Homo sapiens: one gene and its partners. The protein of the gene in region 7 purifies or fractionates together with the protein of the main gene of each other region. This does not show direct contact. Each region holds a gene or a part of one and is shown on either strand. Other genes may lie near its edges.

What was found.
Region 1: the proteins of NFKB1 (region 7) and SCCPDH purify together in Homo sapiens (affinity purification with mass spectrometry; 2 studies listed by BioGRID and IntAct, with this or other methods). This does not show direct contact.
Region 2: the proteins of NFKB1 (region 7) and LRPPRC purify together in Homo sapiens (affinity purification with mass spectrometry; 3 studies listed by BioGRID and IntAct, with this or other methods). This does not show direct contact.
Region 3: the proteins of NFKB1 (region 7) and COPB2 purify together in Homo sapiens (affinity purification with mass spectrometry; 5 studies listed by BioGRID and IntAct, with this or other methods). This does not show direct contact.
Region 4: the proteins of NFKB1 (region 7) and PIP purify together in Homo sapiens (co-immunoprecipitation; 2 studies listed by IntAct, with this or other methods). This does not show direct contact.
Region 5: the proteins of NFKB1 (region 7) and GTF2I purify together in Homo sapiens (affinity purification with mass spectrometry; 2 studies listed by BioGRID, with this or other methods). This does not show direct contact.
Region 6: the proteins of NFKB1 (region 7) and ATAD3A purify together in Homo sapiens (affinity purification with mass spectrometry; 2 studies listed by BioGRID and IntAct, with this or other methods). This does not show direct contact.

Annotation. Positions count from the first base shown.
Region 1 is NC_000001.11:246,734,409-246,737,908, reverse strand, and holds part of SCCPDH (saccharopine dehydrogenase-like oxidoreductase), read right to left. Parts: intron 1,935-3,500; coding exon 1,854-1,934; intron 1-1,853.
Region 2 is NC_000002.12:43,947,490-43,950,989, forward strand, and holds part of LRPPRC (leucine-rich PPR motif-containing protein, mitochondrial precursor), read right to left. Parts: intron 3,112-3,500; coding exon 3,084-3,111; intron 2,171-3,083; coding exon 2,113-2,170; intron 1,030-2,112; coding exon 923-1,029; intron 711-922; coding exon 633-710; intron 287-632; coding exon 242-286; intron 1-241. UniProt on the Homo sapiens protein: May play a role in RNA metabolism in both nuclei and mitochondria. In the nucleus binds to HNRPA1-associated poly(A) mRNAs and is part of nmRNP complexes at late stages of mRNA maturation which are possibly associated with nuclear mRNA export.
Region 3 is NC_000003.12:139,365,648-139,369,147, reverse strand, and holds part of COPB2 (coatomer subunit beta'), read left to right. Parts: intron 1-859; coding exon 860-1,003; intron 1,004-2,002; coding exon 2,003-2,133; intron 2,134-2,372; coding exon 2,373-2,580; intron 2,581-3,500. UniProt on the Homo sapiens protein: The coatomer is a cytosolic protein complex that binds to dilysine motifs and reversibly associates with Golgi non-clathrin-coated vesicles, which further mediate biosynthetic protein transport from the ER, via the Golgi up to the trans Golgi network.
Region 4 is NC_000007.14:143,137,658-143,140,239, forward strand, and holds the end of PIP (prolactin-inducible protein precursor), read left to right. Parts: intron 1-1,417; coding exon 1,418-1,532; intron 1,533-1,860; coding exon 1,861-1,985; 3' UTR 1,986-2,082; downstream 2,083-2,582.
Region 5 is NC_000007.14:74,664,218-74,667,717, forward strand, and holds part of GTF2I (general transcription factor II-I), read left to right. Parts: intron 1-3,500. UniProt on the Homo sapiens protein: Interacts with the basal transcription machinery by coordinating the formation of a multiprotein complex at the C-FOS promoter, and linking specific signal responsive activator complexes.
Region 6 is NC_000001.11:1,525,662-1,529,161, forward strand, and holds part of ATAD3A (ATPase family AAA domain-containing protein 3A), read left to right. Parts: intron 1-799; coding exon 800-870; intron 871-1,499; coding exon of another isoform or gene 1,500-1,614; exon of another isoform or gene 1,615-2,021; intron 2,022-2,033; coding exon 2,034-2,201; intron 2,202-3,500. UniProt on the Homo sapiens protein: Essential for mitochondrial network organization, mitochondrial metabolism and cell growth at organism and cellular level. May play an important role in mitochondrial protein synthesis. May also participate in mitochondrial DNA replication.
Region 7 is NC_000004.12:102,612,859-102,616,358, forward strand, and holds part of NFKB1 (nuclear factor NF-kappa-B p105 subunit), read left to right. Parts: intron 1-566; coding exon 567-723; intron 724-1,029; exon of another isoform or gene 1,030-2,113; intron 2,114-3,500.

The DNA of each region.
Region 1 (3,500 bases), on a different chromosome or scaffold from region 7:
TTAGGTTTTGATATTATGGCTGGGCGTGGTGGCTCATGCCTGTAATCCCAGCATTCTGGGAGGCCGATGCAGGTGGATCACTTGAGGCCAGGAGTTCAAGACCAAGCTGGCCAACACGGTGAAACCCTGTCACTACTAAAAATACAAAAATTAGTCAGGTGTGGTGGTGTGCACCTGTACCCCCAGCTACTCAGGAGGTTGAGGCAGGAGAATCGCTTGAACCCAGGTGGCAGAGGTTACAGTGAGCCAAGATCGTAGCACTGCACTCCAGCCTGGGTGAGAGAGAGAGACCCTGTATCAAAAAAAAAGGGGGGGGTTCGATACTACTTTTATGATAGTTTCTAGATGACTTAAAAGCTTTTCACCATTTTCTATGTTCTGGGTTATTTAAAATAACATGGGAATTGTTTTTTGTTTTTGTTTTTTGGAGACAGGGTCTCACTATGTTGCCCAGGCTGGAGTGCAGTGGCATGATCATAGCTCATTGCAGCCTTGACCTCCCAGGCTCAAGTGATATTCCTGTCTCATTCTCCTGAGTAGGTGGGACCACAGGTGTGTGCTACCAACTCCTGGCTAATTTGTTAACTCACCAGCTCAAGTCATCCTCCCACCTAGCCTCCCAAAGTGCTGGGGTAACAGGCGTGAGCCACCTCGCCTGGGCTTTTTTTTTTTTTTAATTTGTTTCCTCCTTTTTGAATCAATTTTTGTAATTTACACTGTCTCAGTATTTTCCAGTATTTTACCAATTGATAAACTGCAAATGCATATTAATATCATATTGGCATGCTGATGATGATAATCAGTAGTTACTACAGAGACACATGAGGTTACCATTTTAAAGGCTGTAGTAGAGCTTAATGCCTGTTAACACATAACTTCCTGTGGTCAGGCAAACCTCAATTGAAGACCTAGTTCTTCTACTTACTAGGTGCATTACTAGGTGCATTACTAGGTGCATTACTGAGTGAGTTACTTAAGCTTCCTAAGCTTTAATTTCCTCATCTACAAAAAATGGAGGAAGATAACTACCCTATAGGTATATTTTTAAAAAGTTACATAAAACACTTAGCACAATGTTGGGCATATGGTAAGCATTCAATAAATGTGAACATTTAAAATGTTTAGGTTGATTTTACACTAGTGAATTTTACCTTTATTTTTCTGTAATGTTATAAAGGTAACTGAATTTTCTTTTTTTTTTTGAGACAGAGTCTCGCTCTCGCTCTGTGGCGCAGGCTGGAGTGCAGTGGAGTGATCTCGGCTCACTGCAAGCTCCACCTCCTAGGTTCACCCCATTCTCCCACCTCAGCCTCCCAAGAAGCTGGGATGACAGGTGCCCGCCACCATGCCCGGCTCACTTTTTGTATTTTTAGTAGACATGGGGTTTCACCGTGTTGGCCAGGATGGTCTCGATCTCCTGACCTCATGATCTGCCCGCCTTGGCCTCCCAAAGTGCTGGGAGTGCAGGTGTGAGCCACCGTGCCCGGCCTAAAGGTACCTGATTTTTAAAAGGGAATTCAAAATGAAAACATGACAGAATTGAGATTCTAAGAATTATGCACAGTCCGCTATTTTAATTGATTCAGTTTAAAGCATGAAGTAGCTATAATAAGCACAGACCTATAAGAAATGATGTTGTAGGGAGGGAAAAAATTCAGAAAACTGAAGCTAAGACCTTACCATCAGCGCTCTCCTTTGAGCTATCAATGGAATACCACACGAATACCATATCTGAATGCTAGAAAGGAGTTGTCGGCTTCTAAATATGTCTGCAAAATTACACTAAATATTTCCACTTCATTAAACCGAAATTTATGTGTTAATTCTACGTTTTTCCTTTTTATTTTTTATACCTGAGGTTCTCCACTGATGTCGATACAACTGGCTCCATTTTCAATACATGCTTTTATTACAGGTTCTCCATAAAACCGATACTAGGGAAACAAAAAGAACAAAGAGGTTATTCTTGCTTGACAAGTTTAAATGAATAAAATGCCATCTAATCCTGGAAGTAAACAGTCCTAGTTATCAAGAAATCAACTGTTAATAAAATAGCCTAAAGATAAATTCAGAAAGTGGCCAGGCACAGTGGCTCACACCTGTAATCCCAGAACTTTGGGAGGCCGAGGCAGGTAGATCACTTGAGGTCAGGAGTTCAAGACCAGCCTGGCCAACATGGTGAAACCCCATCTCGACTAAAAATACAAAAATTAGCCGGGCGTGGTGGCACACACCTGTAATCCCAGCTACTCGGGAGGCTGAGGCAGGAGAATGGTTTGAACCTGGAAGGTGGAGATTACAGTGAGCCAAGATCGTGCCACTGCACTCCAGCCTGGGCGACAGAGTGAGACTCCGTCTCAGAAACAAAAAGATAAACTGAGAAGATACCTGCACAATACCATCTCTCACAGTGTGAATAAATAAAGGCATGATGGAATTACAGAGCAATGTATGCTTACCTCTACCTGAAGACAAAAGGAAAAGTTTCATACAAGTGATTCCCTTGAGTTGAACCCTAAAGAACAAATAAAAATTTTCCAGGAAAAAGAAAAATCCAGATACAGGAAAAAGTAAATGCAGAGGTTAAGAAAAAGGAGCTGTTCCTGTTGCTTGAAGCAGGAATCAAATTCACTTGAGTAGGAAGTAGAAAGAGATGGGTCTGAAAAGGCAGGCTACGGCCACATCAGGAAGGACCACATGTGCCATGCTAACAAGTTTCAACTTTATCCTTTCTAGTTTACTTGGCTTTCCAGAAGAATTTTAAACAGGATAGTGGTATAAGACTTATAGCACAGACGATATACTAAAGATGAGACATACAATACTAAAAAGGTGGAAATGACTGGATTTCCTGACTAGCTGGGCTGGACATGGGGGCCAAGAACCAGTGGTATTATTGGTCAAAATTAAAAACAAACCAACAGGAAGAAGAGAGTTTGCAAAGGATAAGTTTGATACTGAACAGAGCAGATATTCTGAGCCTGTATGATATTAGATTTCCCATATTATCTGTTATTCAAACTCAAGGAATTAAAATACAAATTTTCATATGTAAAAGCTAATACATCAGAATTCAGTCCCATTTCCAAAGAAGCATGACAAATCTTTTCCTTTGTGAAGAAGTAGATTAGAAGCACAAACTCCTCTGCTTTATTCATTCCTGGCAGCAAAAGATGGAACAAGGAAATCGTTTCTTTCTTCCAGCCTTTGAGGAACAAGGGACACTTAAAAGACACAATCGACCTTTACAAATAGGTCAGATGGGCTGCCCTCTTACCTAACTCCAAGACCTCACACCTCTTACTAAGAATGGCGGATAACACTGGAATTACAGGACTGGGAGAAGTGTGTGAAATTCGAGTTCCTACCCTCCCATTAACAAACCACATGAAATTAATGAAGAACTCTACTTCTGAGGCAGTATGGTATCATGGAACAAAGGATTTCAAGGCAGTAAGACCCAAGTTCACACCTGGAATCCATCACCTACTAACTATATG
Region 2 (3,500 bases), on a different chromosome or scaffold from region 7:
CAGGGATATTAATTGGGGAATCCATGGATGGACTCCAGGGATTTACAAACCTTCTGAGATTATATGCAAATTTCTTAGATATGTTGATTTTTCTGAGGTGGGGAACAGGTTTTACCAACTTCTTAGAGGTATACAAGATGATAAAAATGTGAGGAATCACTGGTTTTATAAGTACACAATCCAGAATACTCATTAAATATGGGTATTATAGCATGTAGAATCTAGTCAAAATCCTACTTACTTTTTGAAAGTCTAAATTCTTACTCTCAACCAACAAGTGAGCATCCTAAAATTGAAATTTAAATTAGCCCAGAATTAGAAAACACACGTAAAAATACATCAGCAAACATCAAAAGCAAATTTGTAAGTCTCACCTCATATTACTACTTTTCATCTTTCCAAAATTTTAGACATTCTCTTCATACTTTATTAATCAATGTAATTAACGTTATAAATATATTTATGAATATATAAATAGTATTTATGAACAATCAATGAAAAGCTTCGTTTTAATGGCTGTCATTGAAACAAATTTTTTTTCTGACCAAAAGCATCATATTTAAATAAAATTTTAACATGCTGTTATATGTAAGTTAAGCATTTTATCCAGTTGATTGCTATTTCACACACACCTTAATCAATTCAGGAACATGGTAGCTTTCCAGGAGATTACGAATGCCTCTGTAGATATTTTCAGGAATTTTTACATTCTGTGAGAAGGGAAGGGAGGGGGGAAAAAACCTGAGTTTTAGACAACCAAACTGAAATTTGTCTAACAGAAATTATCTCAGACATAATTTAAGTCTCCAACTCTTGCATGTCATTGAGAAGTGGTCTGGTTGTACTTAAAAGCAGCAATTTCAAATCTAATAGATACATGTCAGGCAGGACAGGCATTATATAGCAAAAAACGAAATGGTACCATCTTCTCCAGCTGATGGAAGTATTGTCTCAAATGCTCCTCCTTGGCCTGTACCTCTGAGTCACTCATGCTGTCAATCAAGTTATAAAGAAAATAGCCAACAGCTTCTGTGGAAAAAAACAAGAGAAAGCATTCCACTAAAATTACCGAGACTGTCATGTTATCAAGATTAATTTATAAGAAATCATTTTGGTGTGAGATGTCACCCTGATGAGAGGCTCTGAAATGGCAACAATGATCACTGAGGCATAGAGATTATGTGGTTTGGGAGCACATATCTAACTGGTGAGTGAAAGGAATATTAATTATTTTCAGACCGAGTGACAGCTTTTCAGTACTGAATCTTACTTCAATCTATTTTTTTTCCACCACTCTGTGACAGAAGTGGTCCTGCCCAAGGCCTTACCCCTTTCCTGTCCAAATCACACGTAATAAGAATAAATAAATGTCTTGTACACATTTCTATACTGTTTTTTTTTTGTGGACAATATTTAGGGAAGCACATAAAATTAGAAAGGATTGTTAAATGTTGAGTAAAGAAAGTTAAACAATTTTAATAAGCAGATACAGTAATCCTGTGGAGAGCTGCCTATTAGCCAATGAAAAACCAAGATTAACAAAGATGTTTTGTAACAACAGTAATTTTCCTTTGCATTCAAGCATAAAATGTATAGGGCCATGTTACAGTAATACCTAGGATAGAAATGTAAACTTTCAAGAGGGGTACCATCTTACAGAAAACTATATAGTCTAGCTTCATTATATGAAAAATGAAAATCATTAAATGTCAAAACAATGTATTTGGGGCAATAAATTACATTTAAGCGGAAATCCACAAGAACCTTCGCTACATTTTATGTTTAAAATTAACTACACCTGCAAAACATTAAAAGCACATAAATACTAAGAATCACTGATTTTTAAGCCTATTTCCATAGATGTTAGAAGAAACATTTCCCCAATATCTGAAAAGAAAAAGCCTCCCAACCCTGTCTTTAGAAAAAATAATTGTAACAAAATCAAACACTTTAGATCTCAAAATGTTGTAATCAATATAAAGATTTATAACCAAATGTTTTCAAATTCCACTTTAAAAAATAAAGTATTTACTGCTGTAATCCTCCTAACCCATCATTACACAGAAAAATGGATTTGTGGATAAGTTACAATCATCGAAATTGAAACGCTACCCGTCGGTCCTCGAGGCTCCTGGCAATAACGTCCATCCTTGTACAACAATTCTGTTATCTGGTAAGACAGAAAATTCGTGCATTGCAGCAAGAGAAGCAAACAAGAACAAACACAATCTGAAATTGAATTCTTGAAATAATAAAACCTCTCCCCAGTAAGGTACTATTCTATTTCACAGTAATTCAAAACCACCCCCACCCGCCAAGGAGATTGTTTTGTTTTTAAATAATAGGTTTGTCTTTTAAAAACAAAAACAAATCCATGTTGAAGGAAAACTGCAATGTTTTGTGAAATGTCACACAGAAAGACTCTAAACTGATTTATAAATTGATATATAAACATCACTCTGAATGAACTGTTATAAATAGAAAAGAGCTTATAGGAATTATTGACCAATATTATTCCTCATTATATTGCTTTTGGTCTTGTTGACACTGAACTGGTTTCCTCATTTTATATTAAGTTTTACTGAAATATAAAGTAAAATATCCTGAACTGCTAAATAACTTACATTTTTTAGATATTTAATAACAACTTCCATTCATCTTAATGAGACTAAAACAAAAGGGGTCTAAAGATTAAAGTGTCTATTCTCATGGATTCTTTTTTTTTTAATTTCCAACTTTTATTTTAAGTTCAGGGGTACATGTGCAGGATGTGCAGGTTTGTTACATCGGTAAACGTGTGCCATGGTGGTCGGCTGCACAGATCATCCCATCACCCAGGTATTAAGCCCAGCATCCATTAGCTATTCTTCCTGATCCTCTCCCTCCTCCCATTGGATTCTTATCAATTGGATTCACAAACACTAAAAGACACACATAACTATTATTTTTCAACATTAACTCTGCCAGCAAAATTTTAGTAGAAAACCAAATATAGGTTTCATGATAAAAATTATTACATAACCTATGGTATTGGCTTGTAACGTTAAAAGCACCTTATGATTTGCAATATTAGAGGGACTTACCTCGCTCCAAAGATTTATATTCATAGACCTGCAGAGGGCAGCAAAGGATCGAAAATAAACCCAGGTTTATTTTCAAGTATATGCATACTTGTAATATGTACAGATCAAAGTATTAAAATTAATAAGTAAATAAATGTTTGCTGTATCAGGATGAATTTTCAGGACAAAGGTAATTTAGAAAGGCTGACACTCACCCACCTCAAATATTCAAAATAGGCCAGGCCTGGTGGCTCACATCTGCAATCCCAGCACTTTGGGAGGCCAAGGCAGGTGGATCACCTGAGGTCAGGAGTTTGAGACCAGCCTGGCCAACATGGTGAAATCCCGTCTCCACTAGAAGTAGAAAAATTAGCCGGGAGTGTTGGTGTATGCCTGTAATCCAGGCTACTCGGGAGGCTGAGGCAGGAGAATTGCCTG
Region 3 (3,500 bases), on a different chromosome or scaffold from region 7:
GCCATTTAAAATATAAAACAGCACTTAGAATTTAAATAACTTCTTATACTTTTGAAATACACATTGTCTACGGCCTCATTAGGATACAACAATCCTGATTTTCTGAGCAATTGGAGGTAAGTGGCAGTGCCATTTTGACAGGAAAAAAGCATGCTTTGAGAACAAGAAGTCAGAGAATTCTTGACTTGGAAATGCCTTCTTCCACATAGTTCAGAAAACCTTTTCATACATTTTGATGATAGCTGCTTGAACTTGAGGTGACCATCTCCAGTGACAAAGTGTTTACCTTTAGAACTGCCCGCTGCTTTGACAGTTTTCACTGTCAGGAGATTATCTTTGGAAACAAACCAGCTTTTCTGGGGTCTGGTTCTAGAGCACGCATCCTCAGTGGGTGTAAACATTGACTTGGGGGCTTACTCTTTATGAATAAAGCATAGCTATACATATGTATATGCATTATATATGTATATCTGTGGTATTAAAATTTCATTGGGGGAGGTGATTAGAAAAATGTCCAGAAAGACTTCTAGGGAGGGTGGGTGAAAATGAAAAAAATAAAAAAGGTGATAAACACTGTTCTAGAGCAAGAGGGAATAGGCTACTGGTCCTCTGTGTAGCACATTCAGTGTTTACTGACAGCTCTCCTTTCCTGTCTCCCTTTGGTCTTTCCATTGCTAGGCTAAATAGCATAGCCACATAATAGCTGGCCACCCTCCCAAATAATGCCACATAAAATTGTTAAGTGAATACTTATCATCTTGATATAAGAAGGTAAATGTTGTAAGAAACCAAGTATGTGCAGTTTGTCATATCCACTCAGAAATCCAAATCAGTTGTCTATGATTTTGTTGTGTTGCAGATTTTCTGGTCTGACTCTGGAGAGCTAGTCTGTATTGCTACTGAGGAATCATTTTTTATCCTTAAGTATCTGTCAGAAAAAGTCTTGGCTGCACAGGAAACACATGAGGGAGTTACTGAAGATGGCATTGAAGATGCCTTTGAGGTAATTGCATCAGCACAACTTTCGCTTTCAGCTTTGTTTTTAAATGATTTATATTCTTACAACAGACTTTACTGATTTTAACATTTCGTTATAAATTAGGTGTAGGGAGACAGCATTTAAGGATTTCTGGTGAAATGTGAAAAATTAAAATCGTAACTCATAGATCAAAATTTAAAATAAATATGTTTAAAAGAAATTTGTACTTTGATTTTAAGAATTCTTTAGACTTACTTTGATATCTTTCAGTAAAGAAATTATAGTTGTTTTGGTCCTAAGACTATTTAGTCAGTGATTTAAATAAGCTCCCAAATGGTAAATCATTTATTGTGCAGATGTCCTAGATTTTGTGAAATACTTAATATTTCATTGTCATGTTATGAAGGGTCTAAGTTTAGATCAGTATTCTTTTATATCATGATTTTGACCCAACAATGAGATTTCACATTACAAATACTAATCTAGGAATCTGTTCTGTGTTTTGTTTTGTTTTTTTTTCTGTTTTGAGCCTAAGGGTTATATTGAGTAGGAATCTGTTCTTAAATGAAGAAAGAAATTCCAGCGGGGTGCAGTGGCTCACACCTATAATCCCAGCACTTTGGGAGGCCGAGGTGGGCAGATCACTTGAGGTCAGGAGTCTAAGACCAGCCTGGCCAGCATGGTGAAACCCTGTCTCTACGAAAAACATAAGAATTAGCCAGGCATGGTGGCGGGCGCCTGTAATCCCAGATACTTGGGAGGCTGAGGCAGGAGAATCACTTGAATCCGGGAGGTAGAAGTTGGCAGTGAGCAGAGGTTACGCCACTGTACTACAGCCTGGGCAACAGAGACTTCATCTCAAAAAAAAAAAAAAATTCCAAGGAAAATTTTTTTTTTCTAGAAATAGGAAGGATTTTACTTTGCATTCCTTATTCTGCCATATCACCCTCAGATATATTCAGCTTTTTATTGAGAGATTTCTGATGTTGGATAAAGTAATTGTCTTTATTTTTCTTTCTGCAGGTTCTTGGTGAGATTCAGGAAATTGTGAAAACAGGGCTTTGGGTAGGCGATTGCTTCATTTACACAAGTTCTGTGAACAGATTAAATTATTATGTTGGAGGAGAAATAGTCACCATTGCCCACTTGGACAGGTACCTGAGTATCATTTTGCATTTGTCCTAAATTTTAAAGTGTGTTTAGAAAAATCTGTTGCTGGCTTGTAGCAATGATAGGCTGATTTTTCAGTGTTATAGTTTTAGTAGGTTGCCTATTGTTAACCAGAATTGTGTCAATCAAATGGGAAGGTTTTGAGCAAGAGGGAGATTGGCGGGGTGTGTGTTTGTGTAATTGCAGATTTGAATTTCTAACTTGGTTTCTGTTTCTTTTATAGGACGATGTATCTCCTAGGCTACATTCCTAAAGACAACAGGCTTTATCTGGGGGATAAAGAATTGAACATCATTAGCTATTCCCTGCTGGTTTCAGTCCTGGAATACCAGACAGCTGTCATGCGGAGGGACTTTAGCATGGCTGATAAGGTCCTTCCTACCATTCCAAAAGAACAGAGGACCAGAGTTGCACACTTTTTGGAAAAGCAGGTAAGAGGTTTTGTTTTTTTCTTTTTGTTTTTTAAAACTTGCAATTTGAAAGCAAATTATTATGGAGTTGAAAAACTTTATTTCTTAATTGCCAACTGATTTCCTGTGGCAATAGAATTTCTCCTGTGAGTTTAAGGCACTTATTACAGCACATGATACACCCTTCTTACACTCTTCCTTCTCCTTTCTCAGTGCCCCCTTTAAATGTTGGAGGTGATTTTCAGTCTTCCTTTTCTGTGCACTTATTTTCCAGTCTCCTGATATTTTCATTTCTACACTGCATTTTTAGCTTTATCCCATCTGCTTTTTAAAAAAAAATGATTAAAATACATATAAAATGTACCATGACATGACTTTTTCTTATGTAATGTTTTTTAAGCAAAGTTACATATGTGCAAAGCATAAAGTAAGTTTTGCAAAGCTTAAGAAAAAAATCAGCCCTCCTTTTTGCTTTCTACTCCCTAGAGGTAATTATTTTATCTAATTCTTTTGGTATTTATTTCCATATCTCTAAATAACTTGAGGTATAGCAGTTTCTTCATTTCTTAGCTTTAGGCATTTCTTGTGACTTCCCCCTCTGTAGAAGATGAGAATTTCGCCTTCTTTCATTCCCCTGCGTCTACCACATACATGCCACTTTCCTATCCTTTATCTCTCAGAATAGTTCTAATTTTGATTGATCACTACTCAAATGTTTACATTATTATGGCTATGTAATCACTGCTCACAGGTGAACATGTAGCATATTATCTAGCTTTCCTTTCCTGCAATTGTTTGTTTTCCCTAGTTTATAATTGTCTTTTTCCCCCCTTTGCTTAATTTTCTATGTACCTGTGGTTAATTCTCCCTGGACTTTGCTGGTTCTCCAGAGTTCCTGAAGATCTCCTTTCAGTTTGCTTAGTCTCCTTCAGACTGCACTG
Region 4 (2,582 bases), on a different chromosome or scaffold from region 7:
GGGAGGCCAAAGTGGGCAGATCACCTGAGGTCAGGAGTTCGAGACCAGCTTGGCCAACATGGTGAAACCCTGTCTCTACTAAAAATACAAAAATTAGCCAGGGCTGGTAGCACGCACCTGTAATCCCAGCTACTCAGGAGGCTGAGGCAGAAGAATCACTTGAACCTGGGAGGCGGAGGTTGCAGTGAGCCACGTTCGCACCATTGCACTCCAGCCTGGGCAACAGAGTGAGACTCTGTCTCTTAGAAAAAAAAAAAAAAGGGAAACAAGGCACAGGTAGTCTTCTCCAAAGAAACGCCAGGATTCTCCAAGGCATTCTGAGTAAAACTCCAAGGGTGAGAACACCTGAATTTACTGTTTAGGTCTGAACGGCTACTTGATGCTGAGTTGCCAGGTAGCTGAGCAAGCTGCAGGAGGTGGGCAGAATGGCACTGGGCCTCAGTCGTGACCATGAGCCAGTCTGATAACTGCCATACATTCAAGGTAGTACATTCAGGCTGTATTTCGGACCTCTGGATCCGTGCAATGATATGTACATATCTACTTTTCTCCTTGTGATAAAATCACACATACTGCTAATGGCACTGTGGTTCCTTGATGACATTCATAACAGAAGGAATGCTGAATTTCAATTAGAGGTTAGTAATAAAGATGCATATTTTTCCCCTGCCTGAGTCCACAGACTCACTGAATGCTATCCACAGATCCCTCTGGGTCTATGGACCCCAGGATAAAACTGCTGTGTTAAACGTTAACTGGACAAAATCCTCTGACTCCACTGAAATTTATATATACAATAATCTGGGATCTTGAATTGCAAAGCACTCAAGTTAAAAAGAAATTTACATTCAAGATGTTATTTGCTTATCTAACAGCCAGGTTTGGTAGTTAATTGTTTCCACCTCATACCTGAGGAAAGTGAGAGTGAGAGGCCTCTCATCACCAAAGGTCACCAAGTCAGAGAGGAGCACAGATGGGGCTTGGTCACAGCTCTGACAACAAGGCCTGACATTGGCTCCTACACGCAAGTGGCCAGGCTGCTGTCTCACCAGGTCTCAGAGTAAACGTGATTGCAGGTCGATTCCTGAAACCTCTGGCTGGTGACTAAGGCAAGCCTGCTCCTCAGCTGGACAGCTGCCCTGGATGAGCTCTCCTTGCCCTGTGGATTCACTTGCATCCCTATCTCCTCCTGAGCTTCTCCACACTGCTAAGGCAGGAGTTTGAGGGCATTGGAAGGGAAAACCTTCTGACCTAGACTTTGGCTCCTGAAATGATACTACAACAGTAGACTCCCCCTTGCCCTAGGCCCACCTCCACCCCCACTCTTCTCCTCCGGCTTTTCCCTCTCCTATTTTTCCCTCCCTTACCCATTCCCCAAAATAACAATGAATTCCCCCTCCCACCTTCTCCTCACCAGGTTAAAACTTACCTCATTAGCAGCATCCCTCTACAAGGTGCATTTAACTATAAGTATACTGCCTGCCTATGTGACGACAATCCAAAAACCTTCTACTGGGACTTTTACACCAACAGTAAGTACAGAAGTTGTCCAAGGAGGGAACTACCCACCAGCCACCAGGGAGGAGAAACTATAAACAGAAACATGGCTGCGAACCGAGCAGGACCAGGACCTCAGGGCAGAAGGACAGAAGGGAGGGAGGGAAGAGCATGGGGAGAGCAGATGGGGAAAGCACCCAGGTTCTAAGACAGAGGCATTGAGTGCAAAAAGTTGATACAGGAGACAAATTTGCAAAGGATTTGGGGAAACTGAACCCCAGGGGGCAGATGCCTGATATGAGTAGAAAAGACAGGACATGGCCGGGGTGTCTGAGAGATGATCTCCGTCCCTGTCTTTTTCAGGAACTGTGCAAATTGCAGCCGTCGTTGATGTTATTCGGGAATTAGGCATCTGCCCTGATGATGCTGCTGTAATCCCCATCAAAAACAACCGGTTTTATACTATTGAAATCCTAAAGGTAGAATAATGGAAGCCCTGTCTGTTTGCCACACCCAGGTGATTTCCTCTAAAGAAACTTGGCTGGAATTTCTGCTGTGGTCTATAAAATAAACTTCTTAACATGCTTCTCCATGTTCTGTTGTATCTCCAAAATCTGCTCCTGAAGAACCCCAGATTACCTGAAATTTCTAGAACATTTGTCTTTCAAAGAACCTTTACTGAGGAGATTGTACGGGTTCTCACTGCCCATTGGTATGAAGAGGGAGAGAAGAAGAAACTGGGAAGAGGAGCTATGCTCACAGAGAGGAAAAGCAGTGGCCCTAAAGTTCACGGCACAGGAGTGGCAGAGCCAGGGCAGGCACCAAGCCTCCCTGTTGCTTGACCTCTCTCCATCCCACTGCCCTCCAGCAACAGCTCAGATCCCAGAAGACAGGAGTCCTGTTGCATGCAGCAGAGTCAGGGATGGAGTCCATGGCCCCCTAAATGAGCAGTAGCATTCTATGCTATTCTGTTGCTTGTTTTCAATGGATTGTGACACTCAGGGATATCAGGGTCCTGTGCAGCTCTGCCTGAGGAGCTCAGGCATAATAGAGGAGTAAAGGGGCAGAGGGAGCCCTGAGGGGCT
Region 5 (3,500 bases), on a different chromosome or scaffold from region 7:
TACTGTTGTCCTTTTGTTCTGGAACTCTCCCTGCTGTCTTCCTGTTTGTTTTCTCCTCTGTAAAATTCTTGTTTTGGTATTCCATGCCTGTTTCTGGCAGTACTCATTTGCTTTTTACCACTTTGGCCTACTGAGAAAGTAAGAGAAAGTTCAGTATAGCCAGGAACTGTCAGAGTTGTTGGAGGATTGACTCATTCTCCTTTGGTTGTAACTTGTTTCTGTTTTTGTTTTTTTGAGAAGGAGTCTCCCTCTGTCGCACAGGCTAAAGTGCAATGGCGCGATCTCGGCTCACTGCAACTCTCGCCTCCCAGGTTCAAGCGATTCTCCTGCCTCAGTCTCCTGAGTAGCTGGGATTACAGGTGTGTGCCACCATGCCCGGCTAATTTTTGTATTTTTAGTAGATACAGGTTTCACCATGTTGGCCAGGCTGGTCTCAAACTGCTGACCTCAAATGATCCACCTGCCTCAGCCTCCCAAAGTGCTGGGATTACAGGCATGAGCCACCACGCCTGGCCAACACTCTATGTAGGATTTTTAAAGAACTAGTTACTTAAAAAATATATCATGAGAGGGAAGACAAATTTATAAATTGAGAGAGGGTTTATAGCTTATGGCTAGCGACACAAGTTTGAAGTCTGACTGCCTGGATTCCAGTCCTGGCCCTTGCCGTTTCCTGCCTGTGCGACCTTGGGCATTTCACTTCATCTTTGTATGTTTCCCTATTTTTTGTTTTTTTTTTTTGAGACAGAGTTTTGCTCTTGTTGCCCAGGCTGGAGTGTAGTGGCGCGCCTGGCTCACCGCAATCTCCGCCTACTGGGTTCAAGCGATTTTCCTGCCTCAGCCTCCTGAGTAGCTGGGATTACAGGTATGTGCCACCACCACGCCTGGCTAATTTTGTATTTTTAGTAGAGACGGGGTTTCTCCATTTTGGTCAGGCTGGTCTCGAACTCCTGACCTCAGGTGATCCACCCGCCTCGGCCTCCCAAAGTGCTGGGATTACAGGTGTGAGCCAACAGTGCCCGGCCTATTTTTTATTTTTATTTTTATTTTTTGAGACAGTGTCTTGCTCTGTTACCCAGGCTGGAATGCAGTGGCATGATCTCAGCTCACTACAACCCCTGCCTCTCGGGTTCGAGTGATTCTTGTGCCTCAGCCTCCCGAGTAGCTGGAATTATAGGCATGCGCCACCACACCTGGCTAATTTTTGTATTTTTAGCAGAGACAGGGTTTCACCATGTTGGCCAGGCTGGTCTCCAACTCTTGACCTCAGATGGTCCGCCCACCTCAGCCTCTCAAAGGCTGGGATTACAGGCCTGAGCCACCACGCCTGGCCCCTATTTTTAAAAATGGAGTTGATAATAGAACATGTTTCGCTTCTAAGAGCTGTTGCAAGGATAGAGTTTAAGTGCTTAGGTTGCTGTCTGGCATGTAGTAGACACTCAAGAAATATTAGTCATAAAAGTACTATTATAAAGACTTTTGGGAAATTGAGGAAGCGAAAATTTTACTAGTAATATCGACTATGACGTTAATCTCCAAGAACTCTGGAGAATATGAATTGCAAGGGCAAGGACTTATTCCTCTGTGGGATTTTCCCCTGTGACTGTTACATTGTTTTTATGTTTTGTTTTGTTGAGATGGAGTCTCCCTCTGTCACCCAGGCTGGAGTGCAGTGGCGGGATCCCAGCTCATTGCAACCTTCACCTCTGCCTCCCGGGTTCAAGTGATTCTCCTGTCTTAGCTTCCCAAGTAGCTGGGACTACAGGCGTGCGCCACCATGCCCAGCTAATTTTTGTATTTTTTAGTAGAGAAGGGGTTTTACTATATGTTGGCCAGGCTGGTCTGGAACCCCTGACCTCAGGTGATCTGCCCATCTCAGCCTCCCAAAGTGCTGGGATTACAGACGTGATCCACCGCGCCTGGCCAGAGCTTGACAGTTGGATTGATGAAACCTGAGAATGTATGCTTTATATGTTGTTCATTTTAATTTGTTATATCTAGAAATTTAGCTCTTACTGTTGACTATAACACATACATGACGTGAGTAGAATTTTATCTAGATTGAGTTTTCAGACCGTAATTGGTTTCAAGAAAATAAATAAGGTATTGGAAGTGAACTAAAATTAGTAACTGGCTTTGGCATTAGACTTTAATGCACTTAAATTACATGATCTCATCTGTGAGATAATTTGACAGAGGAGGACGATGGCATGTATTATGTCCATATGAGGAAAGGGCAGAGAAATAGACCCTGCAAGATTCATTAGTGTTACTCCTTCCTCCTGTTCGTTTTCTTTCTTCGTTTTCCCCCCCGGTAAGCATTAAAAAAAATTTTTTTTGGCTGGGTGTGGTGGCTCACTCCTGTACTCCCAGCACTTTGGGAGGCCATGACTCACTTGAGGTCAGGAGTTTGAGACCAGCCTGGCCAACATGGTGAAACCCCGTCTCTACTAAAAATACAAAAAATTGGCCGGGCACGGTGGCTCACACCTGTAATCCCAGCACTTTGGGAGTCCAAGGCGGGTGGATCACGAGGTCAGGAGATCGAGACCATCATGGCTAACATGGTGAAACCCTGTCTCTACTAAAAATACAAAAAAAAAAAAAAAAAAATTAGCCAGGCGTGATGGCGGGTGCCTGTAGTCCCAGCTACTCAGGAGGCTGAGGCAGGAGAATGGTGTGAAACCGGCAGGCGGAGCTTGCAGTGAGCTGAGATCGCACCACTGCACTCCAGCCTGGGTGACAGTGTGACACTCTGTCTCAAAAAACAAAAACAAATTAGCTAGGCGTGGTGGTGCGCACCTGTAATCCCAGACACTCGGGAGGCTGAGGCAGGAGAATCACTTGAACCCTGGAGGCGGAGGTTGCAGTGAGCCAAGATCACGCCATTCCACTCCAGCCTGGGCCATAGAACAAGACTATGTCTCAAGGAAAACAAACAAACAAAAAAACACATCTCTACTGAAAATACAGAAGTTAGCTGGGAGTGGTGACAGGTGCCTGTAATGCCAGCTGCTTGAGTGGCTGAGGCATGAGAATCACTTGAACCCGGGAGGTGGAGGTTACAGTGTACCGAGATCTTGCCACTGCTCTCCAGCCTAGGCGACAGAGCAAGACACCATCTCAAAAAAAAGAAAATCCTGTAAGATGAATTTGTTCCTTTATGAAGAATAAATTTGTGTCTGCCATTTACACCGTGAATGCCTTTCTTTGGAGTGGTTCCTTGTAGTGTTTTTTGTTGTTGTCGTTGTTGTTAAATTGTGGTAACATATACTTAACACAAAAATTACCATTTTAACCTTTTTTTGTGGGGGGAGGGACGGGATGTCACTCTGTTGCCCAGGCTGGAGTGCAGTGGTATGCTTTTGGCTCACTGTAACCTTCGTGTCCTAGGGTCAAGACATCCTCCCACCTCAGTCTCCCGAGTAGCTGGGACTACAGGTGCATGCCACCACGTCTGGCTTGATTTTTTTATTTTTTGTGGAGATGGGGGTCTCACT
Region 6 (3,500 bases), on a different chromosome or scaffold from region 7:
CCTTGGCCTCCCAAAGTGCTGGGATTACAGGCGTGAGCCACCACGCCCAGCCTTTTAATTATCATTCTAAGACAGGGTCTCTGTCGCCCAGGCTGGAGTGCAGGGGCGATCACAGCTCACTGTTGCCTCGACCTCTGGAGCTCAAGCAATCCTCCTGCCTCAGCCGCCTGAGTAGCTGGGACTGCAGGGGCACAGTGGAATACCTGTCTAATTTTTTTGTAATTTTAGTAGAGATGGAGTTTCCTCACGTTGCCCAGACTGGGCTCAAACTTCTGAGCTAAAGAGATTTGCCTCCCTTGACGTTCTGAAGTGCTGGGATTACAGATGTGAGCCCCCGTGCCCGGTCAGGCTTTCTTTTCTTTTTCTTTTTTTTTTTTTTAAGGCAGAATTTTACTCTGTTGCCCACGCTGGAGTGCAGCGGTGCAATTTCAGCTCACTACAACCTCTGCCTCCCAGGTTTCAGTGATTCTCGTGCCTCAGCCTCCCACGTAGCTGGGACTACAGGTGCGCCACCACGCCTGGCTAATTTTTGTATTTTTAGTAGAGACGGGGTCTCACCATGTTGGCCAGGATGGTCTCAAACTCCTTACCTCGTGTGATCTGCCCGCCTCAGCCTCCCAAAATCCAGGTTACATTCGTGAGCCACCGCCCCTGGCCCTGGTCAGGCTTTTGAGAGTAGATCCATGAAAGTGTCGCCATGTCCCTGCTCCCTGCAGGAGGGAGGCCTGTGGGACTTTCTGCTGTGGCTGTTTACAAGGCTTTGCTCCTGGTGCCTAAGGCTGGAACCTTCTCTCTGCAGGAGAAGATAAGCGAGGACCTCAGGGCCACACTGAACGCCTTCCTGTACCGCACGGGCCAGCACAGCAACAAGTGAGGGAGCCCCTCGGGTCCTGGGCCCCCGGGCAGGGCTGTGCAGCCGTCGCCCTTGGTTCCCACCGAGGGACCTGAGGGGCCCTGGCTCACAGTGCTGGGCAGCTGCCGTGGCCTCAACATGCCCACCTCGGATGTCCCCTGGGAACGGCCCAGCTCGGGACAGCACGGGGTGTCACTGAGGAACATGCGGGGGCCTCCCGGGCAGAGCTGGGGTCAGTCCTGTCCTCACGGCCCTGTGCGCCGCCGCCCCAGCTTGCAGGTCCCTCTGCCCCTAGGTTTCTGCGGTCCTGTGCCTGCAAGGGAGGTGGTCTCATCGTGTGAGGCTCTGCTGGGTCTCCCTTGGAGGGTGTGTGTGCCCTGGGGTGGGAGATGGAGACAAGTTTGCTCCCACGGGAAGTTGGACACCAGCAGGTCCTGTGTGTCGGGGCGGAACCTGGGACCTTGGTCCCCCGCCCGGATGCTGGCCAAGGGTGCACCCTCCAGGCTTGGGGCCCACCCGACTTTGTGTGGCCTCTGTGGGCTGCCGCCCAGAGGTCCCCCATAGGGTGACCGCCCCATGGCCAGGCTCCCTAGTCCCTCCCAAGTCCCCTAATTTTGAGTTTTCTTGGTCTCCTGGGCCCCTCCAGCCCCAGTCACGTGTCACACGGAGGATCAAGTCCTGCTGGTCGGCCGTGGCTGACTCCTCAGGCACGTTGGGCTCCCAGGTCAGCTGCTGCCGGTGGATGCTCCCTGGAGCCCTGACTCGGGTCCTTCCCAGAGAGGCAAGGCTGGGGCCCTGCTGAGCCTCCAGTGAACCCGGGCCCCTGAGGTCCTGCTCCTGGCACGTGTGGGCGACTTCTCGACATGGACTCCGGGTCCCGAATCCCTGCTCCCAGCACAGCAGGGGTCAGGCAGCAGGAGAGAGTGGTGTTCCCGGCACTGCCTATCAGGCTGGGCGAGGGTCAGCGGGAAAGCACTATATGGAGGGAGAACAGAGGCCCAGGAAGCCAGGCCGGGGGACAGCTGGGTGCAGTGGGGCAGGTGGCCGACCAGGGCTGTGCCCGTGTCCTCGTGTTTCCCGCCACTTTAGGTTCTCCCTGTGGGGGCTGAGGAGGCCCCGTTCCCCTTGGTGCAGCTCGGCCGGCAGCCCCAGCATCCTCATCCTCATCCCCGCCCCGCAGGTTCATGCTGGTCCTGGCCAGCAACCAACCAGAGCAGTTCGACTGGGCCATCAATGACCGCATCAATGAGATGGTCCACTTCGACCTGCCAGGGCAGGAGGAACGGGAGCGCCTGGTGAGAATGTATTTTGACAAGTATGTTCTTAAGCCGGCCACAGAAGGAAAGCAGTAAGTGTCCCGCCCCACCAGCCCCCGTCCAGGGGCCCTCGCTCAGGGTCCACCCCGACCCACAGTCCACCATCACTTACAAACCTTTAACATTCCTTTTTTTTTTTTTTTTTTGAGACAAAGTCTCATTCTTGTCGCCCAGGCTGGAGTGCAGTGACACGATCTCAGCTGACTGCAACCTCTGCCTCCCGGGTTCAAACAATCCTCTTGCCTCAGCCTCCTGAGTAGCTGAGATTACAGGCGCCCACCACCATGCCTGGCTAATTTTTTTTTAATTTTTAGTAGAAATGGGGTTTTACCATGTTGGCCAGGTTCGTCTCAAACTCCTGACCTCAAGTGATTCACTCTCCTCAGCCTCCCAAAGTGCAGGGATTACAGATGTGAGCCACCGCGCCCGGCGTCTTTTCCATTCCTCTTCACTACGAGGAGGGCTGTGAGGAAATCTTGTGCTCGGCCACCCCCAGGCCCTGGCTGTGAGGGGAGGTGATACGGAGTGTTGCTCTGAGACCCCCGTGTCGGGATTCGAAGGAGTCTCTCCTCATGAGACCCCCGTGTCGGGACTGGAGGGAGAGGCTCCTCATGGTCCACTGCTGGCTTCTGGCCTGGCCTCCCTCCAGCTGCCACACCCGGCCCTGGAGCCTCGTGGTGTGGGGCACGGCTCTTGCTGCTCACGTGCCTTGAGGCTGTCAGGCTCCCTGTTGCTGGCGGTGGGTGCAGCAGGCACGGTGGGCAGAGCCCTCCAGGTGATGAGGGGCCCTGGCACCACACACCGGCTGCCTCGGGAACACTCCAGATGAGCAGAGGCTGCTCCACTTCTTGGCGTCCCCCGGGCCCCGGTTTCTGAGTCCTTCTGTGCACCTGACCCAAATCCCTGCTGTCGCCAGTGATGACAAAAGAGAGCCTGGTTGCCGCTGCCGCCTGCTCCATGCCAGCCCAGCTTTCCGGGCCTCAGTTTCCCTATGCCCTCCCCTTCCCTGGGCTCCCCCACCCCCATGGCTGCTCGTAGCCCTGGCACCATGACTTGGCTTCTGTGGCCTCCAGGCAGACGCTTTTGCTAGAAGTCGGGGCTCCGCCACTGCCAGCATAAAGGCCACCTGCCCTGCGGGTGCTGAGTGAGCAGCTGTGGGCAGGGCTGGTGTGAGGAGTGGTTGGGGCCATCTCCAGGCCCTGCAGCCACTCCCTGCTCAGTCCGGGCCTGGCCTGCAGCAGGGAGGATGTGGAGCTGGGCTGTCAGAAGTAGAGAGCCCCTCCAAAGAGGATGTTTGGCGTGGGTGTCGGCCTCGCTGCCTGTCTTCCGGC
Region 7 (3,500 bases):
GGATTTTCACAGAACTTTAACGGCCCTGAGCAAACAATCGACTGTAATCAACGTGTAGCTTCCTGTCCCCAAGAACACACCTTACCCCATGGCAGGGCATTGAGTCATGTTCTGTGAGGTGACTCCTAGTGGAGCCATTACCCGGGGATTTTTTTTTTTCATTTCTAAAAATAAAATGTAGAAAAGCATGGGGTGAAGTTTTCTGTTGAAAATTTCATGGTTAGCTTTTGTTTCTGCATGGATTTCAGAGCTTCAGCTTACAGAGGGAGACTGTGTAGACGTCACTGTAGGCAGAGTTTCACTGCCTCAGCGCTTCTCTCGCTGTCTCTCTCTCTGCTTACTACAAACCACTTCTCTGTGATTTCCTGAGTGGTCTTTGAGCCGAAACAGGAAACTTGATTCGAAGACTGTATTTTCTTAGTCGCTCTTCTCTGCCCTTTCCATTTCCTCCTGGCTCCTGAGTGGAGGAGGCAGCATGGAAGAGGGAAGGGTGGGCTGTCAGTGCTTACAGCCTGCACTGGGACTCGAACACAAGAACATGCTCCTCCTTCCTTTCTTTCTCACAGGTCTCTGGGGGTACAGTCAGAGAGCTGGTGGAGGCCCTGAGACAAATGGGCTACACCGAAGCAATTGAAGTGATCCAGGCAGCCTCCAGCCCAGTGAAGACCACCTCTCAGGCCCACTCGCTGCCTCTCTCGCCTGCCTCCACAAGGCAGCAAATAGGTAAAAAAAAAGACAAAAGACAGTGGAGATATTTTCCAGCTCCCCCAGGCTGGTGTCTTCAGCTCTTTTTGGATATGGTGTGGCAGTTTTCTTTCTCGTTTTCTGGATACACTTCCCTGTGTGTCTCTCTACCCCCTGGGCTCACCCTCTGCCTCTCTTGATAGTACCATTCAGATGAGGGGGTCGTACCCTTGGAAAATCACATTGACACATGAACTACTTAGTAAACACTAAATAATACAATAAATACTAAAAACAACATGATGTGGGTGATTAAATTTAACACATGAGAGAAATAATATTTACCTTAAAGAGAGAACCATCTCCTTCTTCCTTTGCCTCCTCTCTCAAGCTTATGACACTGACCTTGTCCCCCACCATATATGGGACTACGTGTCATGCCACCAAAAGTCTCGCAACCATATGAAATGGACTCTCAACCCAGCCCAGTAATCCTATATTTCCTACAATTTTATTCTCCCACTCTGTAAATGATGATTCCATGCTTTCTATTTCTAAACCCCCAACACTCCTTCCCTCCCCTTACTCATGCAACACCCTTGCTTCACACTCTGTTGAAAACAGAAGAAACCAGAACCCTCTCACCTTTGCACCAAGTGCCAGCCCACCTGTGCCTGTGCCCACATTGGCAGCCTTCCATCCGGACTTGGTGGGTTAAATTTCTTTGCCCAGCTGAGGAGCCACCTCTCCCCTGAGTCTAACCCCCTCACCTTTACTAGGTTGTTGTTCCTGTTAATTCTTACCTCTCTCTCCTGTACTAGCCGTTCCTCCTCCCCACTCTCCGACTAGGTCACCTAGCAAGCATTTCATGATTTCCTCATCTTTAAAAACAAAACACACCGAAACAATCACCCTCTTGATCCCACATCCCATTTAGCTACAGTCCAATTGCTCTATTCCCATACATAGCAGAGCTCCTTCAAAGAATTTTTTAGAGTTATTCTTTCCAGCTTGCCACCTTCCACCCTCTGCTTGGCCTCCTGCAGTTGGGATCGCATCCCCACCGCTCCACCAGGCCTGCTGTCCTCACAGTGACCGGTCACCTCCACATTGCCAGATCTGGTCACCTCCTTTTCACCTTGACCACTTGCAGAGTGTGTCATGGTTGACGCCTACCTTCAACTTCAGACCGTCTCCATTCCTGGCTCCTCCACAGCACACTCCCCTGGCTGGCTCTTCTACACTCACCTTTTAAAGTCACAGCCCTCCAGGGTCAGTCCTAAACCCTCCCTGCTTGGTACCTCACCCAAGCCCAATACTGGCTACATCTGTCAGAAGCGCTGCCATCTTCCAGGAGATTAAGACAAAACCCAAGAATTCCTCAGGAGTCCTTTCTGCCACTAATCACTTCGTATGCGACGCATCGAGTGTCATCCTGTCTGCAACCACCGCCCCAGGCCAGCCTGCCGTCATTTCCTGCCCAAATTCTTGCACGGCTCCTACTCAGTCCCCTTGTTTCCTTCCTGTCCACCTCCCTTCAGTCCATTCTCTGCCCAACAGACGGTATGATTCTTCTAAAAAATCAGTGACATTGTATTAATTCTGGGTTATGCCCTTCAGTTCATTCAGTCATTCATTCAGCAAATCCTGATCCAGCATACACTGTGTGCCTAGCAGTGTTCGAGGTTTTAAAGATAAAACTGTGTCCCTGCTTTACTCGTTTGCTTTCTTAAACATTGCTGTGGAAGCTCTTCCTCCACACTGCGCCTCCATTCCCAAGTGTTTTCTCTGCTCCCCTGGCTCACTAGTCTGACCAACCTTTTGACTGTTTCTTCCCATTCCCTGGAAAGCTCTTAATTGGCTGGCTCTTTCTTGCCACTCAGTTTCAGCACCCATCTCACCCTGCCAGGGGGCCTTCCCAGGGGAGCAAGGGCAGACGTCATTGTCCGCACTTGAGAAAGGAATAATGTATCCGCCGGAAAACAACCCAGATCTCCTGAGTCACAGCCCAGTGCTCCTTCTGCACAGATATTAAAAAAGAAAAAAAGCAAATACTTAACATTTTTTTAAAAAGTAAATACCTAAGCATTAAGCCCTTAATTTGTAGTTATTTTTAGGATATCGCATAGTTTGTAACCCATAATAGACACCAAATAAAGATTGGTTGATTAAACAAATCAGTCAATACCAAAATGATAGTCGTGCCACTGGCATTAAAGTCTTAATATTCTAATATTGGAATTTGGTACATAAGAAGATAGCATTTTGATTAGTGTATGTTAGACTTCTGTTTCCTTCCTCACTGTATAGGAAATAATTTGTCTTGGTCATATCCCTAAGGACACTTATAAACAAAGGGAATTCAACCTGATTTTCCAGTATAGACTCATTTTCACCAAAATCATTTTACTTTTATTGCTACCAAAAATGTTTTCAAGGCAATGTATGCTGTAATAGCATATGAGGCCCAGAGAGAGATCTCATTTTTAGTTCTTGCTTCTGTCACCAATTTATTTTGCTGAGGTTCAGCAGTTTCCCCAGCTATGAAATAGATAATACAGTGGTTGGAAAACTACACTTGATTTCTAAGGGAAAAAAAGGTCCACTGTGAGTCAAGAGAATTCAGAAAGGATTCTCATAAACACAAGACTAGATTGCAGGAAGATGTGAAAGCATTTGGCTAATTCTGACATTTGGCTAATAACATCCTCACAGTATGTCCCAAGTATCTTCTGCCCTTCCCACCACGGTGAGCAGTCATGACAGTGAGGGTGGCATAGGTGGGATGTGTGGCTGGCAGAAGCCAGTGGGCAAGA